Linked DNA regions of Homo sapiens: regions 1 and 2 are each linked to region 3. Evidence: fine-mapped expression QTL. A gene starts in region 3. Each other region holds a variant in brackets. All regions are shown on one strand. Distances are between the middles of the regions. Region 1 has its middle 14 kb from the start of LEFTY1. Region 2 overlaps EPHX1 (epoxide hydrolase 1). Region 3 holds the start of TMEM63A (transmembrane protein 63A).

The links.
Region 1: its variant is fine-mapped to the expression of TMEM63A in thyroid (GTEx, PIP 0.99).
Region 2: its variant is fine-mapped to the expression of TMEM63A in CD4 T cells (Kasela 2017, PIP 0.91).

The regions. Positions count from the first base shown.
Region 1 is chr1:225,898,885-225,907,106 of GRCh38, reverse strand. No RefSeq gene overlaps it. Among named protein-coding and RNA genes, the nearest start is that of LEFTY1, 14 kb to the right of the region's middle. RefSeq lists enhancers at 1-671, 6,262-7,024, 7,025-7,787. The variant T/C (reference allele first, on the strand shown) is at 3,601.
Region 2 is chr1:225,837,003-225,845,224 of GRCh38, reverse strand. It overlaps EPHX1 (epoxide hydrolase 1), which reads right to left. Exons shown (of 9, transcript NM_001136018.4): 4 at 6,344-6,571; 5 at 5,879-6,008; 6 at 5,188-5,396; 7 at 2,751-2,859; 8 at 602-727; 9 at 1-79. It also overlaps a transcript of TMEM63A not described here. Among named protein-coding and RNA genes, the nearest start is that of EPHX1, 31 kb to the right of the region's middle. The variant T/C (reference allele first, on the strand shown) is at 3,369.
Region 3 is chr1:225,879,002-225,887,223 of GRCh38, reverse strand. It overlaps TMEM63A (transmembrane protein 63A), which reads left to right and starts at 4,844. Exons shown (of 25, transcript NM_014698.3): 1 at 4,844-4,920; 2 at 7,814-8,004. It overlaps LEFTY1 (left-right determination factor 1), which reads left to right. Exons shown (of 4, transcript NM_020997.4): 4 at 134-942. The coding sequence ends at 497. RefSeq lists enhancers at 1-79, 3,926-3,975, 4,036-4,085, 6,288-7,238 and silencers at 4,596-4,755, 5,316-5,435.

The sequences.
Region 1 (8,222 bases), 20 kb before region 3:
AGGACCCTCAGGAGCCTACTCCGTGGGCATGGGGCAGCCACAGAGCCAGCCTTGGCCTCGGTGCTGCCCTCAGTCAGCTCGTGGTCCGGGAAGGGATCATACACACTGCCACAGTCACAGCCTCACACTTACACATGGACACACCCACACATGCTCCCACACGCATGTGCACACACACACACGCACACACACACACCATAGGATGCTTCTGTTTTATTTGACACCAAACTAACACATCTTGGAAACTTCTTATGGAAACACCAACAGTAAACATGGAAAGTGGAAATAAAACACACACCCGAGATGATTCCTAATTAGCGGAAACAGCCCTAGTCTAGATCCAGAGACCCTGGAGGGACACGAACGTGGTGCAGGTCAAATTCCCCGTTGTCCAGCGAGGGTCATGGGCTGCCCAAGGCCACACAGCTCACTGCCCTGTGCCATGTCCAATCCCCTTGCAGCCTCCCTCAGCTCATGCTCAAGTCACACAGGCCTCCCCAGGCCTGCCCTGTCAATGCTGACCCACAAACAGGCTCACATAATGCTCCCTCCCAGGGGCACAGCAGCCTTGGCTTTGATCTGAGGTGGGGCTTTCCTGGCCTGAAAGTTGATGTGGCCAGCCTTCAACCTGTCCCCCATATCACCGTCTGCTTTTGGAGACCCAGGGCAGGAAGCTGAAGCCTTATGTGGGAAAATGAGGGCTGGTCCCACGGCAGCCCTGGGGACCAGCTCTCTCCTTCGCTTTATGTATTATTTCATTTTTAATTACAGAACCAAGGTAGCAGAGCCTCTCAGGCTGAGCCAGAAAATAATCAGCTTTTTAATTTGATTTTTGTTCTCCCAAAGGAGAACAAGGGGCTCCAGGGGCACCATGAGGCCTGGACCTTGGAGATATGGTTAGATCCTCTAACCTATAGATGCTTGACTCCAGGCTGGCTCACCATCTACAGTGGGGTGACCTCCGCAGGCCCCAGTTTCTCTCTCTTTAAAATGAGCGGTTGGACCAAAGCTTCCTCTCAGGTCCCTTCCAGCACCAAGCCTCTCTGATCTCTGAGCAGTCCTCACCCCACATGCGTGGCTTTGCAAATTTTCCGACCTCTCTTCCATTTCTGAGCTTTCATCTTTTTCTGTAACGGCATAAAAATATCCTCCTTACCTCCCTGTCCCTGATTCTAGCGCCAGTCTGTGGCTGTCCAGGGGTGGGGTGGGGAGGGTCTCTTCCTGCCTCTCTCAGTTCTTTTCTGTCCCCTCTGGCTTTCCCCTTCTCTCCCCAAACCTCTAGCCACTAGTTATTTCCCAGAGTTTTTCCTCTGTGCTCCCCTCAGTATCATCTCTGCTCTTGTACCTCTGTAGCTGTGCCTGGCCATCTACTCTCCCTGCTCTCTTACCTCCTGCCAAAGACCCCACATCTGACCTTCTGCAGAGTCCTGGATGTGGCCCCTGGACTTCCCATCAGTTCTTCAGACTGTCCCTGTCCAATCTTCTTTCCACTCCCCACTCCCGCACCTGCCTGTCCTCCCTTCCCTGCCTCAATGAATGGTGCCCCCTCCACCCTGCCTGATCTATGCCATGGGTCCAGGCAAGTGCAAGGTCTGGCCCTGGGACCAGAAGGATGGGCCTTGACTCAGGGCGAGGAAGGACCCTCTTCCTAGCTTCCCCCAAATAGCTTGATCCACCTCCCTTCTCAGTTACACTGTGCAGCTTTCTTGCTCTGAAAGGTTGGAGACATTTACTGTTTTTGAAATTGTAGGATCTCTGTTCCTCAGACCCAAGGTGCAGAATGTCTTGGTTATGAGTCGGTGACAAAGCCCTGCCAAATCCAGGTCTCCAGACTCCACCCCAGGGGTCTCCCTGGTCTGACACTGCAAGCTGTGCTCCTCCCCAACCTCCCAACATCTGGACTCGCTGGGAGCTCCCTGGAGCTGGAAGCATGGGCTGGTTTCAGCAAGGACCTGCTGTCACTGGGCTGAGGAGGACAGGCCACTGGTGCTGCCCCCTCACAGGAAGGTCCATGAACAATGCACTAGGTGCCTTCCTGTCAGAAGATGCTCTGGGAATTCCTGGGTGGCCAGAGCCCTCCACCCTGGGTCTAGGGAAACCAACCCTTAAAAGCTAGCCAGGCGCGGTGGCTCACGCCTGTAATCCTAGCACTTTACAGGGCTGAGGCGGGTGGATCACTTGAGGCCAGGAGTTCAAGACCAGCTTGGCCAACATGGTGAAACCCCGTCTCTACTAAAAATACAAAAATTAGCTGGGCATGGTGGTGGGCGCTTGTAGTCCCAGGTACTCGGGAGGCTGAGGCAGGAGAATCCCTTGAACACAGGAGGCGGATGTTGCAGTGAGCCCAGATTGCACCACTGCACTCCAGCCTGGGCAACAGAGCAAGACTCCATCTCTAAATAAATGAATGAATAAATAAATAAATAAATAAATAATAGCTTATTTCCAGAGAAGGAGATGGAGTGGAGCCCACTTCTTATTAAGACACAGCCGGCAGATGCTGGTCAGCCCAAGAGGGGAGAACTAACTGGTGTTCTGTGTGGACTCTGAATCCTGTTCCTTGCCAGAGCTGAGCCTTGGATGGCACAGAAACTTCCCAGTCCACACCAAGGATTGCTGACTGAGAAACAATCCGGCCTGCAGGCATGGGCCTGGGGCTCAGAGGGCTCTGGACAGCTGACTTCTGGTTGGGAAACTGATTACCCTTCTCAGTCCTGGGAGACCTTCCTTGGCAGAGGCCTGGCAGCATTTAGCACCAATGGGGGTTAATCCAGAGAGAAGTCCCAAGCACCCCTTTTCTCTCTCCTAGTGATTTAGAGCTGAAAGGAATCATCTCGTCTATCTACCTCATTTTACAAAAGAATTGAAATCCAGAGTTCACCAAGCTTGCACAGTGAGAATGCCCATCTTTTAATTCATTCGACAAATATTGATGAAGTGTCTACCATGATACCTCATTGTGCTGGTCATTGTTCTAGGCACAGGGACATAGCAGGAAACAGGTTAGACAAATTTTCTGAGCTCCTGGAAGCAACGCTCCAGCGGGGAGGCAGTCAATAGATGGTTAAAGAAGTGGAGAAGAAAATCTTAGATAGTACTAAGTACTATGAGGAAGATAAACCAGAATGATAAAGAGAGATAGTAATTGGTAGAGGCAGGAAGGAACATGTAGATATGTATGCATGGATAAGAGAGGCCTTTCTGAGGAGGTGACATCCGATCCTGAATGATAAGAACAAGTTAACACGCAAAGATCTGGGCACAGACCCTTGCAAGTAGAGAGAACAGCTTGTGCAAAGGCCCTGAGGTGCAACTGGCATGTCACGTTTGGGGAGAGTAAAGAGGCCTGTGTGCATTGTTCTCAGGGAGCAAGTGAGGAGAGGAGGAGAGGTAGGACCTGAGGTGGAGCAGGCAAACCTGGCCCAGGTCAGCTGGGCTTTAAGGACATGGGAAGAAATTTGAATTTTATCCAACGTGTAATAAGAAGTCACTGGAGGTTTGTTTTTTTTCTCTAGTAGACTTTATTTTTTAGAGCAGTTTTAGGTTCACAGCAAAATTGAGAGGAAAGCACAAAAAATTCCTATATACTCTCTCCCCCTA[T/C]ATGTATAAACTCCCCCACTATCAATGTCCCCACCAGCCTGGTACAGTTGTTAAATTTGATAAACCTACACAGACACATCATTTTGTTTGTTTTTTTGTTTGTTTGTTTTTTGAGACAGAGTCTTGCTCTGTCACCAGGCTGGAGTGCAGTGGCACAGCCTCGGCTCACTGCAACCTCTGTGCCCTTCAGGGTTCAAGGGATTCTCCTGCCTCAGCCTCCCGAGTAGTTGAGATTACAGGTGCCCACCACCACACCCAGCTAATTTTTGTATTTTTAGTAGAGATGGGGTTTCACTGTGTTGGCCAGGCTGGTCTCAAACTCCTGACCTCAGGTGATCCACTCGCCTTGGCCTCCCAAAGTGCTGGGATTACAGGCATGAGCCACCACGCCCGGCCACAGACACATGATTATAACCCAGAGTTCAGAGTTTACATTAGGGTTGGCTCTTGGCGCACATTTGATGGTTTGAACAAATGTATAAACGCATGTGTCTACCAGTACAGTAACACACAGAGTAGTTTCACTGCCCTAAAAATTCTCTGTGCTCTGCCGGTTCATCCCTTCCTCCTCTCTAGCCCCTGGAAACCACACATTTTTTTACTGTCTCCATAGCTTTGTCTTTTCCAGAATATCATATAGTTGCAATCATATATATATGGCCTTTCCAGATTGACTTCTTTCACTTAGTAGTATGCATTTAAGATTCCTTCATGTCTTTTCATGGCTTGACAGCTCATTTTTTTTTTAGCATTGAATAATATTTCATTGTTTGGATGTACCACAGTTTATTTACCCATTCACCCAATGAAGGACATCTTCCAAGTTTTGGCAATTATGAATAAAGCTACCATCAACATCTGCGTGCAGGTTCTTGTGAGGACATAAGTTTCCAGCTCATATGGTACTTGGTAAGTACCAAGGAGCGTGATTGCTGGATCATTTGATAAAAGTATGGTTAGTTTTGTAAGAAACTGCCAAACTATCTTCCAAAGGGACTGCCATTTTGCATACCCACCAGCAACGAGTGAGAGTTTCTGTTACTCTGCCTGTTACTTCATCAGTGTTTGATGTTGTCCATGTTTTGGATTTTGGCCATTCTAATAGTTGTGTAGTGATAGTTCATTGTTGTTCCCCACTGACATATTCCTTAATGACAAATGATGGTTAGCATCTTTCTTTTTTTTTTTTTTTTGAGACTGAGTCTCGCTCTGTCACCCAGGCTGGGAGTGCAGTGGCGCCATCTCAGCTCACTGCTGCTAGCTCCCACTCCTGGGTTCACGCCATTCTCCTGCCTCAGCCTCCCGAGTAGCTGGGATTACAGGCGCCCGCCACCATATCCGGCTAATTTTTTTGTATTTTTAGTAGAGACGGGGTTTCACCGTGTTAGCCAGGATGGTCTCAATCTCCTGACCTCGTGATCCGCCCGCCTTGGCCTCCCGAAGTGCTGGGATTACAGGCTTGAGCCACCACGCCCGGCCAATGGTTAGCATCTTTTTTTGGTTTTGTTTTTTGTTTTGTTTTATTTTTTTGAGACAGAGTTTCGCTCTTGTCACCCAGGCTGGAGTTCAATGGCGTGATCTCGGCTCACTACAGCCTCCGCCTCCTGGGTTCAAGCCATTCTCCTGCCTCAGCCTCCCAAGTAGCTGGGATTACAGGCGCCTACCACCACACCTGGCTAATTTTTTGTATTTGTAGTAGAGATGGGGTTTTGGCATGTTGGCCGGGCTGCTCTCGAACTCCTGGCCTCAGGTGATCCACCCACCTCGGCCTACCAAAGTGCTGGGATTACAGGCATGAGCCACCGTGCCTGGCCAGTTAGCATCTTTTTATATGCTTTCTTGCCATCTGTATATCTTCTTTGATGAGGTATCTGTCCAGGTCTTTTGCCCATTTCTTAATTGGGTGGTTAGTTTTCTTATTGTTGAGCTTTACAAGTTCTTCAGGCCAGGCACAGTGACTCACACCCGTAATCCCAGTACTTTTGGAGGCCAAAGCAGGAGGATCACCTGAGACAGGAGTTCAACATGGGCCTGAACCCCATCTACAAAAAATACAAAAATTAGCTGGGCACAATGGTGCACCCCTGTAATCCCAGCACTTTGGGAGGCTGAGGTAGGAGGATCACTTGAGCTCAGGTGGTTGAGGCTGCAGTGAGCCATGATTGTGCCACTGCACTCCAGCCTGGGCAACAGAGTAAGACCCTGTAAGACCCTGCTTCAAAAATTCAAAAAACAAACAAACAAAAAAACACAGAAAAAAAGAGTTATTTGTATATTTTGAATAACAGTTCTTTATCAGATATGTCTTTTCCAAATATTTTCTCCCTGACTGCGGCTTTTCTCATTCTCTTGACAGTGTCTATTTCTTTTTCTTCTTGAAAGGTATAACTGAGGGAATGACAGTGTCTTTTGCAAAGCAGAGGTTCATTTTAATGAAGTCCAACTTTATATCAATTATTCCTTTCATGGGTCAAAAAATGTCATTGCCAAACTCAAGATGATCTATGTTTTCTACTATGTTCTCTTTTTGGAGTTTTATAGTTTTGTGTTTTACATGCAGGTGTATGATCCATTTTGAGTTAATTTTTGGAGAGCTTTGATTAATGGAATATGTTTTCTGATTAAAGTTTGTCACAGACCACTGTTGACTCCGAGGATGGAGAATGCGAGCAGGTGGAGGCAGTTGCAGTTGCCCTGGCAGGTGATGGAGGGTCACGAATGGATATAAAATGTGTTTTCGAAGTGAGACCAAGACACCTGCTGGGGACTGACTCTGAGGGATGTGGGATAGGAAGTATTCAAGAATGAGCCCTGGCCAGGTGCAGTGGCTCATGCCTGTAATCCCAGCACTTTGGGAGGCCAAGGCCGGTGGATCACCTGAGGTCAGGAGTTCGAGACCAGCCTGACCAACATGGTGAAACCCCACCTCTACTAAAAATACAAAAATTAGCCAGGAGTGGTGGCATGCGCCTATCATCCCAGCTACTTGGGAGGCTGAGGCAGGAGAATCGCTTGAACCTGGGAGGTGGAGGTTGCAGTGAGCCGATATCTCGCCATTGCACTCCAGCCTGGGCAACAGAGCAAGACTCTGTCTCAAATAATAATAATAATAATAATAATAATATAATAATAATAATAATAACAACAACAACAACAACAATAAGCCCCAGGGCTGGGTGCAGTGGCTCATGCCTGTAATCCCAACAGTTTGGGAGGCCGAGGTGGGTAGATTGCCTGAAGTGAGGAGTTCGGGACCAGCCAGACCAACATGGTGAAACCCCACCTCTACAAAAATATAAAATTAGCCAGGTGTGGTGGCACACGCCTGTAATCCCAGCTACTTGAGAGGCTAAGGCAGGAGGATTTCTTGAACTCCGGAGATGGAGGTTGCAGTGAGCTGAGATCATGCCATTGCACTCCAGCCTGGGCAACAAGAGCAAAACTCTGTCTCAAAAACCAAACAAAACAAAAACAAAAAACAACAGAATGAGCCCCAGGTCTGGAGACCTGGCTGGGTGTACTGAGATGGGAACAGGTGGCAGTGGAAGGGCATTCGGGTAGATGATTCTGGTGCCCATTGGAGAGGCCAGGCTGGCAGTGGGAGCCCAGGAGGCAGCTGTGAATGACTGGCATGTGAAGTGGCACTTGGTATAGAGGAGAAAAGAGAAGCAGGCTCTTTTCTTGACCTCTGGCTGTTTGTAACACGCAGTTCACACCCTGGGACCCTTCTGGCCAGGGGTTGGAGAGAGGGTAAGACACTATTAATTCACAGGACTGATTGGGTGTGGGCCAGGGCAAGGGAGATCAGTAGGGGCAGACTGAAGGCAAAGCCCCCAGACCTATTATCCCTCTGCAAACAGAGACCTCTTTCCTGAATGTGGATTTCCAATGGGTTCAAGAGTTTTGCTGGGGAAATAAAATAATTGGGCAATCAGCCAGAAGAAAGCGAATGTGGATTGGGAGACTGTTTACAATGGGCTGTTGCATCCTCAGGAGGGAGGGCAGCCCCATCCTTTGTCATGCAGAGGAAGGAGCCTGGCTTCCTAGGCCTGTGGGTGGGTGGGGGTGGGGGATCTGGCTGGTCTGCAGGGTCAGATAGGGCCCAAAAGGCCAGGAATTGTGAAGTCATCCTGAAGCCACATCTGCCATCCTGGAGGGCAGCAGGGGGCAGGAAATGGGAGAACGAGAGGAAGCTCACCACCCCCACTGAGGGCCCAGCCCTGGGACTGAACTTGAGGACATGATGCAGGGAGGAGGAGGAGGACCAGGTAGGAGGGCAGATGAGGAATGGGACCCTGTGCCCTCAGCCACCCTCCTGCCCCTGATAGGCCAGGATGTGACTCCAACCAGAGGCCAGGTTGCCAGGTGAGGGCCATGGGAAAACACAGAGGTCAGAGGTCATCGTGGGGCCTCCATGGGTGGGGATGAGCTGGACTCAGGCCTAGGCTCTGAGGTCAGCAAAGCTAAGAGTCCAGGAGTGGAGTGGCTTCTAATTCGGAGCCCAGCATCTGGGGTCTCCAGGGTGGCTTTTGTCCCCTCCCTGGGCAGGGGCAGACACTACTGAGAGTGCTCAGGAAATACCCCAAGGCCAGTCCAGGTGTCTTGGGCTGCCCCAACCCACA
Region 2 (8,222 bases), 42 kb after region 3:
GAACCTCACCCACTTTTCAGGCGTGTGCAATAGCTCAAAAGGGAAGGCAGAGAAGCCAGTGGGCACATAGACCTTCATCCTGGAAGTGAAAGAGCCGACGGAGGGGTGAGGCTGTGGCCCTGCGCCCCTCCGTCCTGCACAGCAGGGGGTTAAAGCGCCTGGGGGTGAGATCAGCTGGCCCACCCACAAGGAGCCATAAAGAAAAGGACAAATCCAGGGTCTCAACCGCTCTCCCCTCACTGAGGGCCTTCTCTTTTCTGGGAGGGCCACCCAGGCAGGGGCATGGGACAGCCTCTAAATCCCCACCTTTGAGGGTTTCCATGTGAGACTTGGAAATCCCAGAACCATCAGTGCCACTCCAGACCAGCATCCTAGACTGGGGAGCGGTACTGAGGGCCGCCCGGGAGCCAGGCACCTGGTCCCTCCATGAGGGCTTTCTCCAAACACCTCGACCTTTAGTGTTCCCATCCAAGGGCCCCTGGGGCACCTGCAGGCAAGGCTATACTTATCCCACCACCAAGTGCCCTTCGTGGAGCCCAAGACTGGCCGTCCCCCTGCCTCCAGCCTCAGAGGCCCCTGTTCTCGGCTCAGCCAGGCTCACCGCTCATGCTTCTGGGTCATCCAGCCCTGTCCCAGGTTCTCCTTGTAGAAGCGCTGGGAGGAGATGATGGTGCCTGTTGTCCAGTAGAGCATGACGTTGGTCAGCAGGTCGTCCAGGGAGAACTTCCTGGGAACGCAGAACACAAAGCCCCACTCTCAGTGCCACATGCAGTTGTGTGACAAAGGGCAGCCAGAAAGTCCTACAAATGCCAGGCCCTGCCCATGCGGCTTCCCTCCTCAGACCTCATGCAACGTGTGTGGTATCCTCGTGTCACAGGCAGGCTGCGCCCAGGGCACTAGACTGGAGCGCATGGATTTAGTTGAAGTGTCTCTTATCACCCCAAGGTCCTCCCCCCACCCACCTTGCCTCTACACACCTGTCCCCTCTCTCCTGCCACTGACCTCTCCTCCCTCCCCTCAACCCCTGCACCGTGAAACTGCTCAGGGCACCAGCTACTGTGGTGACCACATACCAGGCAGCATGTTCTAAGCTCCTTACCTTCTTTTAATTCATGTTTTCCTCTCAACAGCCTATGGGACATAGGTACTATTATCTCCATTTTACTTATTAAGTGGAGAATCCAAACCTAGCCAGCTTGGGTCCAGGATGCATACTCCACAGCCCCCACCCCACCTTCCACTTTCCCCAGAGCACGCCCTCCCAACCCTACCTTCCTCACTCAAACCCTGAATCTCTAGCAACAGCAGCAGGGAGCAGGGACAGAGATAAAGGGAACAGCCTTTTCAATGTGATTTTGGTGGCAAAATGAAAACTGGTCAATGAAAACTAGTTCCAGTATACACATCACCTCTGTGAACTGGATTTCTGCAAGTTGGCCAAGTGCTTCCATCTCCCTTTCAGCTCTGCCCGCAGCTTGAAAACGACCACGACCACCATTTCCACCCTAGTGTATTCCTGTTCTTTCTAGAACACAGATCTGATCCTGTCTACCTCCTGCTCAGGGATTTGGTGCTCCCTGTAACCCGGGGCCAGAGCTGCAGGAGTGGCCTAGTGGGATAGTCTGGTGGGGCCTCACATCTTGCTCCAGGTATCCGTGTGCAAGGAGCAGGCCAGACCCCCTGCCAAGGTGGTCTTGCAGAAGCTCCATCAACCCCTGTGTCCTGCTGAATGTAGGGCAGGGGAAACAGATCCCAGACGAAGGCCCTGCTGAGGCTCTTGGAGGAGGTGAGGACCTGCCTGCAGGAATGAGTTTGCTTTTGATCTGGCCCCAGTGTACCTGCTTCAGCCTCTGGACAAGCCACCCTTTCCAAGCACCCTTTCCTTGCATTTTTATTGCTTTTCTCTTTGCCTAAGTTTCTCTCCTCCATCCAGCAAACTCCTACTTATCCTCCAAGGCCCAAATCAGATACATTCTCCTGGTCATTTCCCCTCTCTGCCGCTTAGACAAAGAATCCTCCTTCCACTGGACTCTCACAGTCCTTTGCGCATTCATTCAACATCTATGTACTGGGCTCTCCCACTGTTCACCCGGCATTGTTCTAGGTGATGGGGCTACAGCATGGCCAAGACAGAGTCCCTACCCCCAAGGCAGGATTCAGTCTCATTTTACTGTCTTTCCCATCCCCAGCACTGTCTGGTCCTGTGTGTCACTGAAGGAATAAAGGGATGGGCCCTGGAAAGGGTGGGTCAGAGCTGACCTTGGTGAAGCCTGAGTCAGGCCACAGAGCTGGGAGTCAGGCATGTAGAGGATACAGCCTCTAAGGCTCTGAGAGATTAACAGCCTCCTGTCTTTCTGCGACCACCCTCCTGGAACACGCAGTCACGTGACCCTGATGCCAGGCTCTCCAGGGAATCAGGAGGAAAAGCCCAGGTGCTCTTGACAATAATGTGGTGCCTGCTGCCCTGTGGGCTCCCTAATCCCCAGAGGGGCCTGTTCAGCAAAAGGAGCACAAGCAGGTGAGCCTGCATCCTAGTCTTGACCATGCACTGTGAGGCTGGGAACAACCCACCAGGCCACCTCACCCAAAAAATGCAGCTACGTTGGTCACAGGGTGAGGATTTGTAAGAAAGCCAACAATAGAATTTGCTGAGTGCCCCATGCAGAGCAACCAGACAAGGGGATGAAGAGGGTGAGGAGGTTGGCTGCTGGGACCAGGGTCATGACTGCAGGGGCAAACCAGGGCCTCACCTTTCCAGGCCTCCATCCTCCAGGTATCGGAATTCCGTATTGGTCCAGGTGGAAAACTTCTCTAGAATATAGGCAGCCAGACCCACAGGAGAGTCATTCAGAGCAGAGCCTGGCGGGGAGCGGGGAGCAAGGGAGAGACTCAGGCCTGGGGACCAGAGAGCTGGAGCTTCAGGTGTGATGTGTGGCACTGGCCGCAGAGGGCGGGGCTGTGTGCAGGAAGCCACGTTCGAGCACAGGCCTGCCTTAACTCCTGGGTGCTCACATGCCTCGCTTCCTTAACTCTGCCTCGGCATCCTCATCTGATAAACAGGGACGATACCTTCCCACTGTCTCCCAGGGCCTGGCACACTGCCTGCTCAGCTTCCTTCAAACTGAAGGGCCTACGCCTCTGCATTTGGTGGGGTCCCAATGAGAAGTGCTGTTTTTAAAAAGGCGGGGTTTTTCAGTCTATGTGCTCTGATTCATGAAAAATGAGAAGCCACCTAAAAAAGTCTAAAATAGGGGATCAGTTACAAATATTGATATACTCATAAGCCAAAATACTGTACAGTCATTAAAAATGGCTGGAACAGGCTGGGGGCATTGGCTCATGCCTGTAATCCCAGCACTTTGGGAGGG[T/C]GAGAAAGGTGGATCACCTGCGGTAAGGAGTTCGAGACTATCCTGGCTGACATGGTGAAACCCCATCTCTATTAAAAATACAAAAAAATTAGCAGGGCATGGTGGTGCATGCCTGTAATCCCAGCTACTTGGGAGGCTGAGGCAGGCAAATTGCTTGAACCCGGGAGGTGGAGGTTGCAGTGAGCCGAGATCGTACCACTGCACTCTAGCCTGGGCAACAGAGCAAGACTCTGTCTCAAAAAAAAAAAAAAAAAAGGCTGGGACAGTGGGACAGGCTGGGTGCGGTGGCTCACACCTGTAATCCCAGCACTTTGGGAGGCCGAGGCGGGTGGATCACCTGAGGTCAGGAGTTCGAGACCAGCCTGGCCAACATGGTAAAACCCCGTCTCTACTAAAAATACAAAACATTAGCCAGGCATGGTGGCAGGTGCCTGTAATCCCAGCTACTTGGGAGGCTGAGGCAGGAGAATTGCTTGAACCTGGGAGGCGGAGGTTGCAGTGAGCTGAGATCACACCACTGCACTCTACCCTGGGCAACAGAGCCAGACTGGGTCTTGAGAAAAAATAAATAAATAAAGCTGGGACAATGGCATAAATGAATCTCACAAACATAATATTGAGCAAAAGAAGCCAGACTCAAGGGTATATACTCTGTGATTCTATTCATAGGACTTAAACAGGCACAATCAAAACCATCTCAGTCAGAAGTCAGAGCGTGGTACCTGGGAGAGAACCCCGAGGGGCATCTGGAGTGTTGGGGCCATGTTGGTGATATGGACGTACTTCACTTGTGAAAATTCTCACCAAAATGTTCACAAGTTCTTTTGAAGGAGAGGGGATGTGGGGAGGGAGAAGAGGTTATATGAGATTGTCTTTAATGTTTTGTACTTTTTGCATTTTTAAGCTTTTTGACAACATGTATTTTATAATCAGAGAAAAATGCTGACTTTTATAAAGTGCCATTATTATGATTATGAGCTGCCTCGTGTGTGTGGGCATGGGTTTGCCATGAAAACTATGAAGAACTTTGAGATGGGCAAGACAATTCCTGGGTGTCTTCTGGACAAGATCTAGGGAGTTACCTAGCAGACCTTCCGGACTGACGTGATGCTACAGGGGTCCCATCTTTCCTTGTCATTGAGCTATTTTACAGTTCTGTGAATTGTAAAGAACTGAGGGTAATGCGAATGACTCTTGTTCATAGAGGCAAATGAATTTTGTCCCATGGAGATTTAATTGATATTACTCTGTGGATGTTGACAAGTTTTGTGTCTGTTAGCAAATTAATTTCAGTGTTCTTATTTGTCTTTGAATTGTTTCTTTTTAAAATTTTACTGGTTCCTTTATAAATTTACCTTTTTGAAAAAGTATTGTCCTTTAACAGGACCCTGGTGGCAGACATGGTTGCTGGGCCCTCCCTCACTGCCTGGGAACCTCTTCCCCAAGGCCCCAGGGCACCCTCTCCCCTCTCCCCTGCAGCCCCAGAGCTGCCCACTCCCAGGATTCCTCCTACCTCACCCCCTCCATCCCTCTGCTTCTCAGTGTAGGATATAGACTCAGGGGTGGGAGATCAGGGGTGAAAGCCACTATGAATACTGAGTCGGCTAAACAGAGTTGCTAAATTGGCCTGGGAATCTGCTGAGGGTCCATCCTCTTGATTCTATGGGAAAATGCAGTTTAAAGATCTAAAGAGCTGGGAGGTCCTTACAAGAGGCTTCCTTCTGTGGGCAGCATTGGGGTGGGGTGGTGAGGTTACCCCGCGGGTGTCTCCCTGCCCCAGTGGAGCCGGCAGTGGGCGAGGACCCCTGAGCACACTCACCTACGGTGTCAGGCTTGGTGCACTGGATGTGCATGTAGCCGCTCTCCCTCATCAGGCTGTAGAATACCTTCTCCTTGACGGGGTACAGCAGCTCCACATCCCTCTCAGTGAGGCCAAGAAACCTCCCGAAACGCTGTCCCAGGAGGAGGGTCAGGGTAGAGAAGTTGCTTAAAACCAAAGCCATGTTCAAGTGCAGGCCTTTCACGTGGCTGAAGGCAGAGAGAGGGGCCGGGGTGAGGCTGGGCTGGTGTCAAGGACAGGGAGAGAGGAGAGATGGCGGAGGAACAGGCCTCAGGGCTGAGGAGCGAGCACAGAGCCAGCCTCTTTCAGCACTGGCCCCACTGGGGAGGCCATGGGAGTTGGAGAAGGGAGGTTGGGGGAAAAATACAGTTTCTGGGGAGTTCTGCTCAGGGCTATCCCAGAGCTTGGTCCAGCAGAGAGGTCTAATGCCTGACCTTCCCCTCCTATCACAGGCCTTCTCTGCCTGGGAACCTGACCCAGAGCCGCAACCCTGGGTTACAGACAGGAGGATCCAAGTCAACGTGCCTCAGGCACTGCTGAGTGACAGGTCACACTCCCTCCTCTCCCCTGGGGGGTCCTTGGCCCACCCTGCACACAGGTCCACTTCTTAGAGGACACACACACACACACACACACACACACACACACACCACCCCAACAGTGACCTCACCTGGGCACCAGCTGGGCCATATTAGTGCAGATCAGGGACCCCCAGTCCCCTCCTTGAATGTAGAATTCCTGGAAGCCCAGCCGCAGCATCAGCTTGTAAAAGATCCTGGCGGTGGCCACCGAGTTGAACCCTGGCAGTGATGGGGAAAGGCATGGAGTCACGGAGTCACAGGCAGATTGCTCCTTGGGCCCTCTGGTGTTCTATGAAATTTCTCAGGCCCGCCTACCCCCAGGTGGAGGTCAGAAAAGCTCACAGAGGCAAGAAGGAATCCTGGAGCCCAAATATAGGGGTGGCATCTCCAGCCCCGGAGGGCGGTGTGTCTGGGGCCGGCCTCTCAGGCCCCTCCTTTCCCAGCTTCCTCGGGCCAACTCCCTGCTCACCCCGCCGGAAGGAGAGCCTGGTGGGAACACCGGGCCCACCCTTGGCGAGGACGGGGCAGTTATGGAACCTCTAGCAGCCCCGTACCCTTCTTGGAGGATGCCTCTGAGAAGCCATAGCCAGGGATGGAAGGGCAGATGACTTCAAAAACGTGCTCATCGCTCAGGCCATGGTTCTTGGGGTCAGTCAGGAGTGGGATGATCTTATAAAACTCGTAGAAAGAGCCGGGCCAGCCGTGCACCATCAGCAAGGGCTTCGGGGTATGGCCTGCGGGCAGCTGGGGGGGCTTCACGTGGATGAAGTGGATGTCCAGCCCTGGGGGGACAGAGCACAGTCAGGGTGGAGGGAGAGAGAAGACCCTGCACGGTCAGGCTCTGGCACCCCCCAGAGCCTAGATATTGAGTCCTGCCACCCTTAGTGCCCCCGCCGCCCCTTCATGGTATTGACAGTAATAAGGGCTGACACTGGTTTCACACTCACACTGTGCTCCAGGTGCACAGATGTCCTCACTCAGCCTTCACAACCTCCCTGCAAGGGAGCTACGATTATTGCCTCCCGGTTTCCTTAGAGGTGCCCCCTGACAGCTGGGCCAGGTCTGTACAGCCACTGCTGGGTTTCCAGGGCTCAGGACAGCTCCTGGCTCACAGCAGGCCTCCATAAATACTTGTTCAATAATTTAAAATCTGGAGGGTAGGGAGAAAGCCCCACGTATCCAGCAATACAGGATTAATCAAGTATAGTTTGACAGTATACTGGAGTCCAGTACAGTCATCTAAACTGACAAGGTAGATGTATATTTATTTAACATAGAAAACTGATCAGAAGATATTGCTGGGAGGTAAAAGCAAATGATCAAGTCATATCCATTGTGTGACCCAGTTTTTATAAAAAGTCATCTATGCTTATACTGTACTTATACTATGTATTGGTGAATTTTAAAAGTCTGGGAGGATAAACTCCAAGAATGTAAAAAGCAGTTCTCCTGAGCAGTAGATTCCAGTGCTTTTAATTTCTCTTTGAGTTTTATGTACTTTCCAATTTTTCTACAATGAACAGGTATTAAATGCATAATTTTTTTCATACACATTGACAAAATGTCACCTTTTTCTGATTACCAAATGATATTTTCTTTAAAGTGGAGTATTTTTGGGCCTGGTGTGGTGGCTCACGCCTGTAATCCCAGCACTTTGGAAGGCTGAGGCGGGTGGATCACCTAAGGTCAGGAGCTCAAGACCAGCCTGGCCAACATGGTGAAACCCCGTCTCTACTAAAAATACAAAAAAATTACCCGGGCATGCTGACAGGCGCCTGCAATTCCAGCTACTCGGGAGGCTGAGGCAAGAGAATCGCTTGAACCTGGGAAGCAGAGGTTGCACTGAGCCGAGATCACACCACCACACTCCAGCCTGGGCAACAGAGCAAGACTCCATCTCAAAAAATTAAAATAAAATAAAGTGGAAGATTTTTTTTTAAGTGCAATGCTGAAAACATCATCATAGCCAAGGGCAGGTGAATGGATTCTTGTCTCCTCTGGACTGACTTGGGGCCTCTGCATATCAAAAGAAGGCAGCCCCTTCCCAGGCCAGTGCCCTGGACAGCACCTGGGGCCTTACGGCATTCACAGTGAGGGCGGCTGCCATGCTTGGAACTCTCTGCCACCAGGGCTGGTGCAGTCAGCATGGTCTAGCTAATGTTCTGTTCTGTCGTTAATATATTATACAAATAATACATGTTTACTGTAGAAAACTTAGAAAACACAGATAAGCCAAAGGGGGAAGACTCACATGTAATCCCACTCTCTAAAGAAAACATGGTGTTGTCTGTCTAAACTTTATTTTGGAACAGTTTTAGATTGCTGAAAAACTGCAAAGAATCCAGAAAACTCCCATATACCTCACACCCACCGGGTTTCCTCCATTATTAATATTTTATGTTAGCATGGTACATTTATTACAATTAACGAACC
Region 3 (8,222 bases):
CTAGCTGTCCATCCTATATCACAAACATCCAGCTTTTTGAAGTTGAGAGGTGGATCATAAATCTCCATCCCAGACGCCCTCTGACCTCAGCCCTCCCAGCTGACCGCTGACCCTGCTCTCTTTGCCCACACAGAGCTCAGGGCGACTGTGACCCTGAAGCACCAATGACCGAGGGCACCCGCTGCTGCCGCCAGGAGATGTACATTGACCTGCAGGGGATGAAGTGGGCCGAGAACTGGGTGCTGGAGCCCCCGGGCTTCCTGGCTTATGAGTGTGTGGGCACCTGCCGGCAGCCCCCGGAGGCCCTGGCCTTCAAGTGGCCGTTTCTGGGGCCTCGACAGTGCATCGCCTCGGAGACTGACTCGCTGCCCATGATCGTCAGCATCAAGGAGGGAGGCAGGACCAGGCCCCAGGTGGTCAGCCTGCCCAACATGAGGGTGCAGAAGTGCAGCTGTGCCTCGGATGGTGCGCTCGTGCCAAGGAGGCTCCAGCCATAGGCGCCTAGTGTAGCCATCGAGGGACTTGACTTGTGTGTGTTTCTGAAGTGTTCGAGGGTACCAGGAGAGCTGGCGATGACTGAACTGCTGATGGACAAATGCTCTGTGCTCTCTAGTGAGCCCTGAATTTGCTTCCTCTGACAAGTTACCTCACCTAATTTTTGCTTCTCAGGAATGAGAATCTTTGGCCACTGGAGAGCCCTTGCTCAGTTTTCTCTATTCTTATTATTCACTGCACTATATTCTAAGCACTTACATGTGGAGATACTGTAACCTGAGGGCAGAAAGCCCAATGTGTCATTGTTTACTTGTCCTGTCACTGGATCTGGGCTAAAGTCCTCCACCACCACTCTGGACCTAAGACCTGGGGTTAAGTGTGGGTTGTGCATCCCCAATCCAGATAATAAAGACTTTGTAAAACATGAATAAAACACATTTTATTCTATAATTTTGTAATTTTCTATTTTATTTTAATTAATTAATTATTTTTGAGACAGAGTCTCACTCTGTCACCCAGGCGGGAGTGCAGTGGCCCAATCTCGGCTCACTGCAGCCTCTGCCTTCCAGGTTCAAGCGATTCTCATGCCTCAGCATCTTGAGTAACTGGGATTACAGGCATGTACCACCACGCCAAGCTAATTTTTTGTATTTTTATTATTATTATTATTGAGACAGCTCTGTCGCCCAGGCTGGAGTACAGATGGCGCTATGTTGGCTCACTGCAAGCTCTGCCTCCCGGGTTCACACCATTCTCCTGCCTCAGCCTCCCGAGTAGCTGGGACTACAGGTGCCTGCCACCATGCCTGGCTAATTTTTTGTATTTTTTAGTAGAGACAGGGTTTCACTGTGTTAACCAGGATGGTCTCAACCTCCTGACCTCGTGATCCGCCTGCCTCGGCCTCCCAAAGTGCTGGGATTACAGGCGTGAGCCACTGCACCTGGCCTAATTTTTTGTATTTTTAGTAGAGATGGGGTTTTGCCATGTTGCCCAGGCTGGTCTGGAACTCCTGACCTCAAGTCATTCGGCAGCCTCAGTCTCCCAAAGGGCTGGGATTACAGGCACAAGCCACTGTGCCCGGCTGTAATTTTCCATTTTAATCAAAGCTCTGCAAATTGAGGAAGGAGCAGAAAGTTCTACAGCGATTAGGTCAACCTGATTGTAAAACTAAGGAAGGAGCTTGAGTTGGCCAAGACTTGGTAAAGATCTTGGTTAGGTAATACATGAAACTAGGATTAAAATGCTTTCAGGGCCAGCACGATGGCTCACTTCTGTAATCCCAGCACTTTGGGAGGCCGAGGTGGGCGGATCACTTGAGGCCAGGAGTTCAAGACCAGCCTGGCCAACATGGTGAGAGTGCATTTCTACTAAAAATACAAAAATTAGCTGGGCATGGTGGTGTGCGCCTATAATTCCAGCCACTCGGGAGGCTGAGGCATGAGAATCGCTTAAACCCAAGAGGCGGAGGTTGCAGTAAGCTGAGATCACACTACTGCACTCCAGCCTGGGCAATAGAGTGAGATTCTGTCTCAAAAATAAAATAAATAAAAATAAAATGCATTCTGATTCTAGAATCTATGGTACCTGCCCTCCCAGAATTGATACAGAAATTTCTTTTTTTTTTTTTTTGAGACGGAGTCGCCCAGGCTGGAGTACAGTGGCAGGAGTGCAGTGGCGCGATCTCCGCTTACTGCAAGCTCCGCCTCATGGGTTCACGCCATTCTCCTGCCTTAGCCTCCCGAGTAGCTGGGACTACAGGTGCCCGCCACCACGCCCGGCTAATTTTTTTGTATTTTTAGTAGAGATGGGGTTTCACCATGTTAGCCAGGATGGTCTCTATCTCCTGACCTTGTGATCCGCCCACCTCGGCCTCCCAAAGTGCTGGGATTACAGGCATGAGCCACCGCGCCCGGCCAATACTGAAATTTTTTTGTTCTTGACACTTTGACTTTCCTGGGCATAGTGACTGGGCTTTATTCCAATCCTACTTGCATCAAAATAAAATCTGTGATCAAAATTATCATCTATACTTAGAGAAGAAAATAAAGCTTCAGAGGATCTGGAATTTATAGCTGTAAGAGCTGTGCAGCTGGGCGCGGTGGCTCACGTCTATAATCCTGAGGATCACCTGAGGTTGGGAGTTTGAGACCAGCCTGACCAACATAGAGAAACCCCGTCTCTACTAAAAGTACAAAATTAGCCGGGTGTGGTGGCACATGCCTATAATCCCAGCTACTTGGGAGGCTGAGGCAGGAGAATCGCTTGAAGCCAGGAGGTGGAGGTTGCAGTGAGCTGAGATCACACCACTGTACTACAGCCTGGGCGACAGAGTGAGACTGTGTCTCAATAAGTAAATAATTAATTAAAAATTAAAAAATAAAATAGTGATTTTACAAGCACTTCACACAACTGACATAACAAAGGCTGTGGCTATCTCAACTCACATATCGATCCATCAAGGCCTTCTCTTGATTTTGAAATAACCTTAACCTACTCAAGAACAAATTTAGAAATCCTTTCTCTCTCTGAAATCTTTGTCAGTGGCTCCAGCATTCTAATTACCAAGACCGGAACCTTGCACTTGCCTGGACCCATGGCACAGACCAGACAGGTGGGGGCACCATTCATTGAGGAAGGAAGGAGGACAGGCAGGTGCGGGAGTGGGGAGTGGAAGAAAGATTGGACAGGGACAGTCTAAGGAGCCAACGGGGAGTCCAGGGGCCACACCCAGGACTCTGCAGACCGTCAGATGTGGAGGTAAGAGAGCAGGGAGGGGGGATGGCCAGGCGCAGCTATGGAGGGACAAGGGCAGAGATGATACTGGCGGGGGGCATAGAGGAAAAACCCTGGAAAATAACTAGTGGCTAGAGCTTTGGGGAGAGAAGGGGAAAGACAGATGGGACAGAAAAGAACTGAGAGAGGCAGGAAGAGACCCTCCCCACCCCACTCCTGGACAGCCACAGACTGGCGCTAGAATCAGGGACAGGGAGGTAAGGAGGAATTTTTTTTTTTTTTTTTTTTTTTTTGAGACAGAGTTTCGCTCTTGTTGCCCAGGCTGGAGTTCAATGGTGAAATCTCAGCTCACCGCAACCTCCGCCTCCCAGGTTCAAGCGATTCTCCTGCCTCAGACTCCCTAGTAGCTGGGATTACAGGCATGTGCCACCACACCCGGCTAATTTTGTATTTTTAGTAGAGACGGGGTTTCTCCATGCGGGTCAGGCTGGTCTCGAACTCCAGACCTAAGGTGATCCGCCCACCTCGGCCTCCCAAAGTGCTGGTATTACAGGCATGAGCCACCGCGCCCGGCCATAAGGAGGATATTTTTATGCCGTTACAGAAAAAGATGAAAGCTCAGAAATGGAAGGGAGGTCGGAGAACCTGCAAAGGCATGCATGTGGGGTGAGGACTGCTCAGAGCTCAGAGAGGGGTGCTGGAAGGGACCTGAGAGGAAGCTTTGGTCCAACCACTCATTTCACAGATAGGGAAACAGGGGCCTGCGGACGGGTTGGTTTGCTCCTTGATTCCCAGGGCGCGCGGTCCTCCCCGAACCCAGCCTCGCTTCCCGCGCAGCGCCCAGCAGTCCCTGGCGCGGCGGGCCGGCCCTGCCCTCGCGAGCTTGCGGTCCGGTTGTGGAGGCCACCGGCTCCCTGGAAACATTTGGCTCCCGGCCGGGAGGCATGCCGCGCTCTCGGACCTGGGCTGGAGTAGGTGCCCTTGGCGGCCCTGGCTCGAGCAGTAATGGACTAGCCCCAGGGGGCGTTGGAAATGCTGCGACCCGCCCCCACATTTTTGCCCGAACGGAGACCCTCCGGGCTTTCACGGTCCGGCCTTCTACAGCGGCGGGGGAGCCGTGGCCTCTTGCAGGGCGCTCCGCGCGGTTCCCGACTACCCGGAGCCGAGGTGCGGGCTGAATCCTGCTGAGCTCCCCATGCTACCACCCCCGCAACCCCACTCTCCCGGGGCGGGTCTAAGAGCTCTTCGGGGAAATTCAAAGCACTACAGGGACCAACGTTTGCAGATGCTCTCCCTGCGCCGCGACCACCCTGTGCTTGGCCCAGTTCTCCCGGAGGCGTCCAGAGACTGGGCTCGTGCCGGGGGACGGAAGAGGGTGCGCCCCGGCGGATCCCTTCTTGGAGCCTGGACGTGAGCTGGCCGGTCCGGGGCTTGCAGACCTCCGGGAGGAGCTGCGGGGCTGAGCGGCGACCAGGAGGCCAGGCCGGGGCAGAGGACCGCCGAGGGCCACCGCGGGAGGCGCAGTCAGCTGCGTACAGGCTTGCGCCGCCGCGGGCCAAGACTCCAAATTGGGAAAGGGGTGGCCGCAGCTCTGCGCATGTGCAGGAGGCGCCGGAGTTTCACTTTGTAACTTTTAAGTGGTCGGAACACGCCCCGCGCTGCTGGGTCCCGCCAGACACGCCGCCGCCGCAGGTACAGGGGACAGGGGGCGTGAGGAGGGGCAATGCACCCTCCGCCTTTCCCGGGACGTGCGCGCCAGGTGTCCGGTTCCGGAACGGCTCCCAGCCTACGCAGACCCCAGAGCCCCCGACCCCAAGCAGGGGGTGACGACGCGGGATTGGGTGGGAGGAGAGGGTCCGGGCAGCGCCTCCATTCCAGCCCTGCGCTCCTTGGGAATTCCTGGCGGCTTTTCAGGACTTTCCTCTCCGGCTTTTCGCTTTCAGGGCTGGTATCTCCTTCTTCCCCACCCCTCTCTTTGGGATTTGTCGGCGGAGTCCGACCTCCCACCTAACTAGGAGTGCAGCTATGGGCTCCTCGGACCCTATACGAGGCCGGGCTGGGAAAGGGCCAAGCGTCCGACTCTCCTGACGCCAGGAAGGCAGAGGCCACCCCTCGGGCTGTTCCTGGGTGACCACTTCCTGCAGCCTTGGCGGAGTCCTGAGGAGGGAGGCTGGGGACTCGGGGACTGGGGGGAAGGGCGGGGGCGGAAAGGGTGAGGCGAGCTCTGCTAAGAAACCAAATCCGCAAAGGTTCCAGCACCTGATAAGACTAGCTACCTGAGGCCCTGGAGGGGCCTTGGTCATTCAGCCCCAGGCAGGTGGTGTCCTCTTCAAGGGCAGGGGTGGACAGCGTGGCGGACCCACTGACCCTCCCTTGACACCTCTCAGGTCATCCTCAAGTCTGCTGTGCCTTCAAGGGGGATATGAACGGAAGCCGAGGCTCCTTTTCCCTTCACACGCCCCTCTCCTTTGTTTAGTGTGGGGGCAAAGGTCTCTCCTAGCTGTTCGTTGGGCTCTAACAGAGAAGACGTCAGGTGGGATCCTGCCCTTGTGTTTCCCATTAGCTGGAGGGGCGACTTAAAATAAAGGCAGACAGCTTCTAATTGCTTGCTAGGGCCGGGTCCTGGGCTAAGTGCTTTACAGGTGTTGTTTGGGATCTGTGCCTCCCAACAGCTCCGTGAGAGAAAGTCATCACTCGCATTTCCTGGCGAAGGAAGCCAAGGCACAGAGTGGTTAGGCTGCTTGTCTGAACTGCGTGGTGCTGAGACCCTAACTCCAGAGCCTGCTCACATAATCCCTGAGCCACACTGCCTCTGGTTTCAGCCAGGGGCTGTGTCATTTCCTTTGTGCTCCAGGGTAGGAGGTAAACAGTTGTCCAGGTTACTGGGTCCTGTTTGGTGTTGCCATAAGGAGAAGTTTGTACTTTACTTTGCAACCTTATTCTGCATCTGAAAGACCAGAGTTAGCTCCTGAGGCAGAAGGCCTGGAGCTGCTTGTAGTTTCGCTATTGTCATCACAGGATTGAAAGATTTGGTGATGATAAAATTACCCTGAATTTGTACGGGCCTTCTTGCAAGAACGAACAATATCCATATACTTCCTGCAACATTCTGCTGGTATTTCTAGAGCTTGTCAAGTTGACCACCAGGCCAGTCCTTGCTGCCAATGGAGACTGGCAGTGGATTAGCATAGGTAGTTTACTTTGGCAAATTTAGACCAGCTGTTGGATTTAGCCCTCTCCCACTGGCCACAATCAGACGCTTGCCTGCACATGGGTTGAACTTTGGGTTGGGAGCGTGAAGTCACCTGCTGCCCACTCTGGCTCTTGGGCCTCAGCAGTAATTCTTGGCTTTCCTACCCTCGGCATATTGAGTAGGAATAAGGGGATGAATGGAGAATTTCTGGAAGGCACAGGTAAGTGCTAGGCATTCACATACATCTAGGATGACTGAATATTGCCAGGGGTTCTCAGCCAGGCAGTGCCACTTCAACCACAGTGCCTAGCTGCTGGTTTGGCCTCCTCTATACAGCTGCCAGCTGGGTGCTCCCCTCCCCCTGCCTTCTCCTCAGCCTGGCAGCACTGTCCCATGGTGTCTGTGTTCCCAGCTGCCTGCTCAGAGCGTGCCTGTTTGTGAAAATGCAGAGGAGCTGTCCCATGGAGAGCCAGAGGGACGGAGCTGTTTCAGGGGGATCTGGACTTTATGTGTCTAATGGGCAGGGACAGGCTGGGACTGAGCTGAAAGGTCTGAGAGAGATTGTGGGTCCCCAGAGCTCTACCCTAACCTGGGTGCTCATCGGAGAGGGCAGACAGGACTGGCCACCTGACCTTACCTCCGTCTCAGGCTGATAGTATTTGCTAGCCACCTCCCTGAGTTCATATCAAACTTTGTCAAACCACCCTGGGAAGCCTATTTGGCAAGAGACAAGTAACTTAGAGGCATGACTGGGGCTGGAGGGAGGGGGAAGAGGAGCCGCAGGTGTTTCCCTCCGCAGAGGCCTCTCTCCTCTGCAGCACTGGCGAGGGTATGCCACTCCCAGCACCACCACAGCACCCTCCCCTTTCCAGGGACAATGCTCTCTCTGTGAGCATTTTATGGGGATGTTTTTTCTTTCCACTTCACATTTCAAGCCTTCCTTGTTCATGCTGCTGTGTTCCCTTTTCCTGATTCTAGCTCTTGGGGAACCCTGGGGAGCCTCCCCAGTAGCATTGGCCCTTGGGGCCCAGGTGAAGTCCTTTGCTTGGGGCCCTACCGTGAGCCCACAACCTCCAGGGTTTCTGTGGGAGAGGGCTGCTCCCCTAGACCCAGCAGGTCCCTGAGCCATTGGCAAAGAGGAGAGAGGCTGGGGCCACAGGTGGTGCTGGCCGAGGAAGGAGGAGTAGGGTCGCACAGAGGAGCACTGATGGATGGAGAACCAGTTCTGGGAGTTTGGGGAGAGATCAAGGCAGGAGGGAGCCCACTGGGCAGAACCTAAAGGTCCATATGGGCAGCATGCATACACAGGTGTGTGCTGGAGGGTTTCCATCCAGACCCCTACACTGGAAAAGGGTGGCTCCCATGTGATGCTTGGTGTCTGTGATCCTTCAGGAAAGTCTACAGTTTGGTACCCCAGGACTCGCTGGTCAGGAAAGCCCTGCAGGACATGAGTGTTAGGCCCGACGCCTGGCCCTTGGCAGCTTGGGAGGTGGCTGGGGCTGCTTTTGCCTTTGCCAGAGACAGCTCCAACTGAGGACCTCTCCAACGGGCCCATCCACAGTCCTTCCTTCCCCTAGTGTCTGGTAAGTGTGGGGACAGGAAGGAGGAGGGGTAGGTGGTGGCCTTGAAGTGTTGGGCTGGTGTGTTCCATTGGGTGGTGCCACTGGGGGATTTTAAAGGGAAGCCAAGAACATCTGTGTTCCAGAGGTCACTCTTGTGACACTCTGTTCAGAGTCAGCAGCCCCATGACTCTGGCATCACAACCCCCACTACCTCCAGCCATTGCCAAGTCTCTTAGAAG